Linked DNA regions of Homo sapiens: region 2 is linked to region 1. A link means that fine-mapping ties the variant in region 1 to the expression of a gene that starts in the linked region. Tissue or cell type: whole blood. Region 1 holds a variant in brackets; the other region holds the start of a gene. All regions are shown on one strand. Distances are between the middles of the regions.

Region 1 (5,202 bases):
TTGAGTAGTTTTTCAATCATTTCTGAAAAAGGTACTGAGTGCTTAGTATATGGCAAGTACCGAAGTGAGGGCTGGGTAGATAAGGGGTGATTCAGGCCAGTGCCTGCCCTCTGCACCCAGATGAATAAGCGAATGCTGGAATATGGACTCCCTGGTGCCTTGCAGATCCTGCAAACATCGAGGGCAATGCCGAGACTGCACAGGTGCTGGGCCTCACCCCCTGGATGGACTATGAGTTCCGGGTCATAGCCAGCAACATTCTGGGCACTGGGGAGCCTAGTGGGCCCTCCAGCAAAATCCGGACCAGGGAAGCAGGTGAGAGTCCTGTGTGTCCCAAAAAGCTATCATCAGGGCAGAGACCCTGGCACCACTTATAGGGAATGCCAAGCCAGCCGCAATTATGCTGAGTTCCAACCCTGCTCACAGGGTTCAGACTCTCACAAAACAGAGGAGGACAGAACACCAAGTTGGGACCAGGGCCACTGCATGGACAAACCATCTAGTCCAAACTCCTCATTTAAAAACTGGCCAACCTTACAACTGCATGTGCATCTATAATTTTTTTAAGTTTAATTTTTAAAAGTGGAAAAACCAAAGTTCGGAGAAAGGAAGAGTCACATTGACAGAGCTTGGACTTGAACCCAGGACCATGGGGTGGTAGACAGATGTCTTCCTGGAAGAGTATGCACTACAGAAATCAGTTAATGCTGGCTGGGCGCAGTGGCTCAAGCCTGTAATCCCAGCACTTTGGGAGGCCGAGGCAGGCAGATCACCTGAGGTCAGAAGTTTGAGACCAGCCTGGCCAACATGGTGAAACCCCGTCTCTACTAAAAATACAAAAATTAGCCAGGCGTGGTGACACACACCTGTAAATCCCAGCTACTCGGGAGGCTGAAGCAGGAGAATCGCTTGAACCCGGGAGGTGGAGGTTGCAGTGAGCCAAGATTGTACCACTGCACTCCATCCTGGGCGACAGAGCGAGACTCCATCTCAAAAAAAAAAAAAAAAAAAAAAAAAAAAGAAAGAAAAAAAGGAAATCAGTTGATGTGAAAGATGTGTGTGTGTTCTGTGCAGGGGGCTAGGGAAGCAGCCAGTGTCTCCAAGCCTTTAGATGGTTTCTTTGGGAGCAGATGGAATTGAATAACCTGCCCACAACCCTCAGCAAAAAGCGTGTGGGTGTCAGAACTTGAGTGGAGAAGGAGGGGGAGAAAAGAACCCAGGAGAGAGTAGGGGAGGCACAGGCTCCAGTCAGCATCTGCTGAGAGGCTCCTGCCCATCTCCGAGCCATTCGCAGGGGAAGGCCTGGAATGAGAGCCCGGGGATCCTGGGACCAGGAGCATAGATTAAGGACCCTGCCTCACCTCCTCTACAGACCTGTTGCACTGGATGTGTAGTGAGGGTCCACCTTCTTGTCTGCCTGAAACATGTTCTCCTACATGCCCCAGACTGACTCTCCAGGCCCTTTTTCTAGAATCACTCAACATTTTTAGCTGGTACCTCTCCTGAGTAAGAAATTCCAGAGGCAGCACTTTCTTTGATTGATCCTGAACTTCTTGGAGGGTCAAATGTGGAGAAATGAGGGGACTCCTTTATTCTATTTACAGCATCCCAGTAGCTGAGGAGCACAAAGACAGCTGTGATGCAAAGGAAACATGATGGGCTTTAAAATGAGAAGGGCTGAGTTCAGATTCTACCTGTGCCATGTATTAACTGTGTGACCTTAGGCAAGTTGATTAACTGCTCTGGGCCTCAGTCTTTCCACCCTGAAAAGGGCAATAATAACACCCACCTCACAGGATCAAATGGCCAATGTGTTTAAGTACCTCTTGCAAATTACACGGTCCTAAACTATTGTCATCAGAAGCAAGTGAAAAATCTCCAGCTGCTGGATTCTCTACGGAAATATTTTGACCCCCAGCCAAGTTACTTTCTGCCAAGCTGCAGGAGCTGATGAAATAAATTCCTGTTTTAATATCAGCCTTGTTTAATACTAGAGACAATTAGGAGATTAAATCTGCAACAAAAAGAAAAATAGATAATATATCACCCTGGAGCCCAAAAGTAGTTTGTTTTGTTTGTTTGTTTGTTTGTTTGTTTGTTTGTTTGTTTGCATTAACTGCAGTTCTGGGTTATTTATTCCCCTTATTTTAAAGCGAGTGAGAGTTGGTCTCTGTGATTTAGTTTAAGTTGATGGAGTAAGGAGGACAATGATCATGTGTGCATCATCTGCTCTATACTAACCACCGTCTTGTCTAATTTCATTCTCATTATGGCCTCTGAGAGAAACATGATTATCTTCATGGAGAAGAGAATCAGAGGCTCAGAAAGGTTAAGTGACTTGCCCAGGGAAGCACAGCTAGTAAATGGCAGAGGTGGGATTTGATTTCAGGACTGCCTGACTCCAAAGCCTATGTTCAGAGGGACCACTGGGGGGCAAACCCAGGGCCCAGTTGAAGGGGTTCCCATCTTACGGTGCTCTACAGGCACAGGCTCAGGGCTTTCATTTTTTCCTTGCTCATTAACAAGCCATATCGGTGTCCCTTGGCCCTTGACAGCCCCCTCGGTGGCACCCTCAGGACTCAGCGGAGGAGGTGGAGCCCCCGGAGAGCTCATCGTCAACTGGACGGTAAGCTGCAAGGGTCAGATGTCCTCCTCCTCCTCCCTGAC[C/T]CCTCTCCCGCTTGAGCAGCTGCAGAAAGGACCACTGCACAGCTCTGACTCAAACGCGGATAACTTCCTGTCCCCCTTCCACGCACCCGCTGCCCCTTACGCGAATCCACGCTGCAGGCGTAGGCGTCCAGGGCCGCTACTCTTGGCAAAGGTTGGGTGGGGCCAGGGAACGGGCAGGGACACATGCCGCGGACCCTCGCCCATGCCATGCTCTTGCCCCTCAGCCCATGTCACGGGAGTACCAGAACGGAGACGGCTTCGGCTACCTGCTGTCCTTCCGCAGGCAGGGCAGCACTCACTGGCAGACCGCCCGGGTGCCTGGCGCCGATGCCCAGTACTTTGTCTACAGCAACGAGAGCGTCCGGCCCTACACGCCCTTTGAGGTCAAGATCCGCAGCTACAACCGCCGCGGGGATGGGCCCGAGAGCCTCACTGCACTCGTGTACTCAGCTGAGGAAGGTGGGCTGCCCCTGGGCCCCCTGCTCGTCCCTACCCCAGCCACTTGTCCACAGGGATGTGGGGTGGGGGAACGCTACTCATCTCCCAGCTCAGTTCCATAGGAGGAGGTTGAGAGGACACCTGGGTTCCACATCATTGGCCTCACTTCCAGCTCTTGCTACCTTGTCTCCCTTCGGGGTTAGGAAAAGGGAGGCTCTCTGGGAATAGAAGTGGGCCCTGGAGCATTGCTTGGGGGGCTCCCACTCGGCCTTCATCCTGAAGGCTTTCCTCCAAAATCTTAAGCAAAGGCAATCCTGGTTGGGGGCTGCTCTGCAGGACACAGGGGGGCCCTGGGAATCCAAACCCATTCTGTATTGGTCCCCAGAGCCCAGGGTGGCCCCTACCAAGGTGTGGGCCAAAGGGGTCTCATCCTCAGAGATGAACGTGACCTGGGAACCCGTGCAGCAGGACATGAATGGTATCCTCCTGGGGTATGAGGTGAGCACCAACCTGGGACTTGGGAGAGGAAGGGGTGCTGGGGCTTCAAAGCCAGGTGGGAACAACTCACAGACCACTAATCATTCCTCCTGGCGTCCCTGGTTCGCTGACATGGCAAACTGAGCATCCAGTCTGTGTAGCACTGTGAATGCAAATTTCACTAAGACCCCATGGCAGGCCAGGCGCGGTGGCTCATGCCTGTAATCCCATCACTTTGGGAGGCTGAGGCGGTAGATCTCCTGAGATCAGGAGTTTGAGACCAGCCTGGCCAACATGGTGAAGCCCCGCCTCTACTAAAAATACAAAAATTAGCTGGGCATGGTGGCCCATGCCTGTAATCCCAGCTACTCAGGAGGCTGAGGCAGGAGAATCGCTTGCGTTCAGGAGGCAGAGGTTGCAGTGAGCTGAGATTGCGCCACTGCACTCCAGCCTGGGTGACAAAGCGAGACTCCATCTCAAAAAAAAAAAAAAAAAGACCCCATGGCTTATGCCCATTGGGGAAGACAGACCCTGGAGGCAGCCTTAAAGTAAATGCTTGGCTAGAGCCAGCATTGGAAGCTGAGAGGGTAGAAGGAACAGGTTCTGGGAAGGGGCATGGCCTGCCCCTTTCATCCCAGAGCCCATTCAGGCTGGCCTGTCCAGGGCTGCACAGAAAACAGCCTGAGCCGCTCTATGGACAGTTGATCATCCTGTCCCGGGGGAATCTGGGGCCCAGCAGTCTGGCCTGAGTCCTGGGCCCACTGAGAACTCCACAAAGGGGTACCTGTGGAGCAGATGGCAAGTGATGGGAAGCAAGAGGGAGAGAAAGAAGGAAAAGCAAGAAGAAACCATCAAGCTGGGCCTACTAGTGATAGCACAAGTTCATTCTAGTAGAGTACTCTAGATTTGAGTACAATAGCTTAGGCAAGCCACAGTGTGGAGATAATTCCAAACTCTGCCCTTGCCTCTGCCTTTGAAAGCATATTTAGCAGGTCTTCATGCTATGATTACCATGAAAATGGGTTTGCATTTATTAGGCAACCTTCAGAAGCTTGCTTAGGGCCAGGGGACTACTTTGCAATACAAATAAGCATTTTCTGTCCCTTAGCAGAATGCCCACGGTAGCCCCCCAAGTTAATGAAATGAAATGGGTTCCAGCAGGCCATTGCTAGGTTGAGCCTGTGCCACCAGCTCCCTCCCTGACCCATGTCTTGAGCACCTTCCTTGAACTACGCACCAACAGACAGCAGGGACTCACACCCACATGGCCCTGCTGTCTGGGTGCTCATGATCTAGTCTCCAGGTTCTGAGGCCTAAGACTGGGTCACAGGGACCAGGATGAGCAAGAGAGGAACAGAATGTGGGGGCCGGGGCAGCCCTGAGATCCTGGGCTTGACTACTACCCCTTGGGTACCCCCGCCTCCTTCAGATCCGCTACTGGAAAGCTGGGGACAAAGAAGCAGCTGCGGACCGAGTGAGGACAGCAGGGCTGGACACCAGTGCCCGAGTCAGCGGCCTGCATCCCAACACCAAGTACCATGTGACCGTGAGGGCCTACAACCGGGCTGGCACTGGGCCTGCCAGCCCTTCTGCCAACGCCACGACCATGAAGCCCCGTGA
Region 2 (5,124 bases), 140 kb after region 1:
TCAGTTCATGATGCAGTCAACTGGAAAAGCCAATGAAGTGAAATGCAAAGGTATATTTGTATGTCTTAAGTTGTTTTTTAAAGAATAAAAACAACAGCCAACCAAAGTGCCTTGAAAACCTCCATCTCTCTGAGGTTAATCAATTCTCTTTGTTTTAGAAGCAAGTCTAAAATAAATAGTTGTTTTAAAATAAAAACAGCAATAAAGGGCTTTTTAAGATAAGCTGTGAGAGAAACTTCCGAGCAGGAGACACCTCTGGAAAGCACTGTTATGGGTGCGGGTGAAAGTACACATTCTGGGGATCGTCTCAGAAAACATTAGCCCTTCCCATCAGCTGTTTTCTGGTAGCCTCACAGATACTGGTTCTCTCTACAAGTCCATTCCAGGACAGTATATTTCTGGACGTAAGATGTCAAAGACTAGTTTCAGAAAAACTAGTCATCCCCAGAAATGGTGATAAAAATAAGATACTAAGATCATGACAGGGTCCTAAATGATACCGTTCCATTTAGTTGGTTTGGATAGGAATTTAAAAAGCCTTATTTTACCTTGTAACATAAAAGGAGGGGGATGACTAGTTTTTCTGAAACTACTAGTTTTTCTGATACTGTCATGATCTTAGTATCTTATTTTTATCACCATTTCTGGATTCCCAGTCGGATGTAGGATATTAAGCGCAAAACTTTGGGAATATAAGACCTAACACGCAAAGTCAGAACAATTCATCCAGTTCTAAGCCTTGTGTTCAAATTTGCTATGAGCATCTAAATTCATGGTTCTGAAAGTATTTTAACGGACCACCTGCATCACCTTCCCCAGTGTCTTTTATTATTACTATTATTATTATTATTATTATTATTGAGACAGAGTCTTGCTCCGTCGCACAGGGTGGAGTGCAGTGGCACAATCTCTGCTCACTGCAACCTCCGCCGCCTGGTTTCAAGCGATTCTCCTGCCTCAGCCTCCCCAGTGGCTGAGATTACAGGCCTCAACCACCACACCTGGCTAGTTTCTTATATTTTTGGTAGAGACGGGGTTTCACCATGTTGGCCAGGCTGGTCCCGAATTCCTGACCTCAAGTGATCCGCCCCGCCTCTGCCTCCCAAAGTGCTGGGATTACAGACGTGAGCCACCGCGCCCGGCCTCTTCAGGGTCTTTTCATGTTAAATTAGATTCTTAGGACCCACTTCACACACCTATTCAATAGGAATTTATGAGCTAGAGCACGAGACATGGCATTTTTAATACGCCCCTGGGGTGAGTTTAATACACACTTTAGTTTGAGAATCACTAAATTAAACCCACAGACTTCTTTGCTGTTTTGTCCCCAAGATATCTATCTACGTGGAATGTCAGTCCCTTCTCCCTTCCAATCTAAAGTTATTTCCTAATTAGACGCAGTAGTTAACAAATCCTCCAGTTCCCCACCAACAGCAGTTTAAAAGGAAGCAAGACGTTAGGAAAGATTAAAGACTGCACGATTTTAAGTGTTTGGGGGCCTCTGGCACATCCTAGAAAGAATCATGCAAGAAAGAACAAGAGTAGCTAGTTCTCCATTGGCTCAGGACCAAAATGATCCCTTCCCTCTCTTCTTCACCTTAAGCATGAGCAACATCTCTGGCAATTCCGTGGCACCCATCAGATATGATTTCCTCTGGCGACCCCCAACCCTATTTAGAGAATGTCCCCTCTTCACAGAGCTGCCTCATGATTGGTGTGAACACATTTCACATACATCATCAAACCCACACACCCGACTACAGTCCCATGGCCTCCTCGGACTCCCGGGACTCGCTGCCGCCTCTGCTCCATCTCTAAACTGGGGCTCTGACCCACAACGGCGCACGCGCCCGCCCCCAACTCAGAGCAACTTTCCCCACTCCTCGGATTAACTGCTACCCTCTCCGAACGCCGGCCCGCCCCAGGTCCGTCAGCGCACACCCCGGTCCCCGGGGTCCCGCTCCGGGAACTCCGGCCCTCGGTTGCCCCTGGCTCCCGGTCCCCCAGCGGGCCCCTTCCTCCCCTCCTCAGAAGGATGCCCTCCCAAGGTATCCCAGATCCGGCCGGCCCATGCCCGGGGACCCGGCCACACGACACGACTGCCCCTTTCCGCCTGCCCGAGAAGACTCGGGCTTGTTTTGCAGGGCAGGGGTGCGGTCCGTCCTCCGATTTGCCTCTCCTGCCCTCTCTCCCTCCGGGCTGCCCTCCTTACCCGCCTGCAGCCCGGTTTCGGCGACATCGCCTGCAGGGCCGCGCTCGGCCCCGCCGCCGCCCGTGAGGGAGGAGAGACAAGTGTGGTTGTGGGAGCACTTGATGTCGCGGAAGAACTTCTGGGTCTCGCGCAGGTTCTGTCGCAGCCGTCCCAGGTAGCGGCGGTAGCGGCCGAAGCCCCGGCACAGCTCGCGGATCATTCCGCCGCCGCCGGGGCCGGGACCCGAGACGGGCTCGCTGCCCCATGGCACCCCGTCGCCCTCCATCGCCTCTGCCCGCTCTGTCTTTGCGGCTCGGTCCCCGGCCGCAGGCCCGGCCTCCCTCCTCCCCGCCCCCCAGTGCCGAAGGGAGGAGGAATCCGCCTCCTGACGCCCCCGCCTGCAGTCAGCCTGGCTCCCAACCTCCGTCACTGCCGTTGCAAACAAACCAAACCGCAGTGCGCCGCTATCGGAACCTTTCTCTCCACTATCCAGAAGCGTGAGGGAAGGATCGCTGGAGGACACCCTCGCCGCGGGGTCTCCTGGGACTTGCAGTCCGGGCTGGGACCAAACGCCAAAACCTCAAGGCTGGAGAAGGGGAGGCTGTGGATGGGACTGATCCCTTTTGGAGAAAACCCTCACTCGTTCTTGTGTTTTCGCGCTCTCTTCATTTTAAAAAGTGTTCCTAATCCCTCTATGAGCGTCCCTGAGGAGAGGGAGGAGCTGCAGGACCTGAGTGCCAGCAGAAGTGGGGGGGCCTTACCGAAATCGTAGCGAAAGATGTTAATAGTAGAGAAAAGGAAGGAAACAAGACTGAAGACAGTCATCTCCATGGCTACCCTAAGTGGCTCTCTAGTGTTTCGGATACAGTAGATACTGGGGAATCGGCTAAAAGTACCCTGGAAATCGGCTGAAAGTACCCTGGAAATAGGGAAATCTCTTATATTTGCATTGCGTTCCCCTTTTCCAACTTTCCTTCTCCAGACTTGGAAAGGAAGGGTGTGAAAGGATCAACAAGAGCTGTAAGCTGAACTTCAGTGGGTTCCTGAAGTAGGGAGACCGGACTGGGTAAGGGGAAGTTGAGGTTTGTAGCCTTCCAAACTATTTCTGATTATCTTAACTTGGTTTCTGCTAATATGGAGGACTTTCATTGACACACACAGTCACAGACTCCTGGACACAATTACAAAGGGGGCAAAACTTGACGTCACCTCTTTTGTGCTTCCTGAATTATCTCTCCCCTCTTCACCAGGCACAGAGCCCATCTGTATCTTTCTTGCTATAGAAAGACACCGTCTTTTACCTAGGCCAGACTTCTTCTCTGATAGGCTACATGATGTAGTTCCTTGACTGAAATTAAGAGGAGATTTGAGTTTGGATCTGGACTCTTCCTATACCTTGCATTGTGATCTCGGGCAAGACCCCGTTTCATCTTCTATAAAGTAAGGGTTTAGAATGGCAGATCTTTAAGCCCTTTTGGTTTTAAATTTTTGTGAGTCCTGCTTCAGAAATTTTACTTCTCCTGACCTCTCATCGCAGAACACCCAGGTGTTCTTAGCCAAATGATGTCGTGATATTTGGATTAATTGTTGTAAGATGTGAAGGCCTTACCTTTCCAGGGGCATTAGCATTTTATAAAAAGGGGTCACTAATTCAAATGAATCTGTATTTGATAAATGTCTGTGAGGGCTGACTGCAAGGAGGGAGCCTCATGCTCCTTCCCATTTACCCACTCCCCCTTCTGCCTTTTACTTGGTCACGTATTTTCCATCAGCCATTCTTCTTTTGCAAGATTATATTCCCCATGCAATCCCCAAAGGTTCAGTAAAATAGAAATGAAAATTAAAAATGGGAATTTTAATACAAAGTAGATACTATTTTTAAAATAGAAGAGCTGTAAGAAAGCAATGTGTAATGATTTGCCACACACACGAATTTCTAGCACAGGAGATCAGATAAGAGCACTCAAGCTGGAGTTATCCAGAAAAGGAATCTATCTTGAAGAAGGGGCAAAATTTAGATAGGTGGAAGTAATCAGAGAGGGCATTATTTCAGGTAAATATCACAAAGCCCACCCTTTTAAAAACTATTCCTTAGTACTTTGCATTTATTTTCAAAATAAGTAATACACGAATGTGGTATAAAATTCAAATGGTGCAAAGGATATATAAGGAAAAACTAAGTCTTTCTTAGTTTTTCTGTTCACCTCCCAGTCACCTAGTTCCCCTCCCAGGAGGCAACCACTGTTGTAGATATAAATCATGTATAAATAGATCCTATATATGTATTTATATATGTGTATGCATGTATTTTAAATACAAATGATAGCATACGTAATACATATTTGATTATGGCCTTGCAGACTTCTGTACCAAAACATAAAGGTCTGTTTCATTCTTTTTAACTGTGTAACATACTACCACATGGATTGGCATGTTTTATTTAACAAGTCTTCTATTGGCGGACCTTTAGGTTTTTTGCAGTCTTTTGATATTAAAAACAATACTGCAAGAACTAATCTATGTACATCATTTTGAATATGTGTAAGTATATCTCATACCTATTTTTGATCTGTTGAGAAAGGCAATAATTTTTTGCTATTTAAAATCTTAAAAAATGCAAGTGACAATGAGCCCTTTGTAAATCATAATAACTTACCAATTAAAATACATATTTTCTTCAAATATCTAATTCAAAGGACAAATGGAGAAAATAAAGTTTTGAACGGTAAGAAGAGAGGGTTTAAGTTGGTATAGAAAAGTATTTCCTGGCTGGGCACAGTGGCTCACACCTGTAAACCCAGCACTTTGGGAGGCCAAGGTGGGTGGATCATGAGGTCAAGAGTTCGAGACCATCCTGGCCAACATAATGAAATCCCGTCTCTACTAAAAATACAAAAATTAGCTGGACGTAGTGACGCATGCCTGTTGTCCCA

What was found. PIP is the estimated chance that this variant, and not a neighbour inherited with it, causes the effect.
Region 2: DSTYK starts here. The variant in region 1 is fine-mapped to the expression of DSTYK in whole blood (INTERVAL, PIP 0.91).

The regions. Positions count from the first base shown.
Region 1 is chr1:205,066,936-205,072,137 of GRCh38, forward strand. It overlaps CNTN2 (contactin 2), which reads left to right. Exons shown (of 23, transcript NM_005076.5): 16 at 166-315; 17 at 2,556-2,626; 18 at 2,892-3,126; 19 at 3,491-3,603; 20 at 5,012-5,198. Among named protein-coding and RNA genes, the nearest start is that of TMEM81, 15 kb to the right of the region's middle. The variant C/T (reference allele first, on the strand shown) is at 2,668.
Region 2 is chr1:205,209,059-205,214,182 of GRCh38, forward strand. DSTYK (dual serine/threonine and tyrosine protein kinase) reads right to left here and starts at 2,644. Exons shown (of 13, transcript NM_015375.3): 1 at 2,213-2,644. The coding sequence starts at 2,477. RefSeq lists silencers at 1,974-2,023, 2,444-2,573, an enhancer at 5,030-5,124 and a cis regulatory region at 5,102.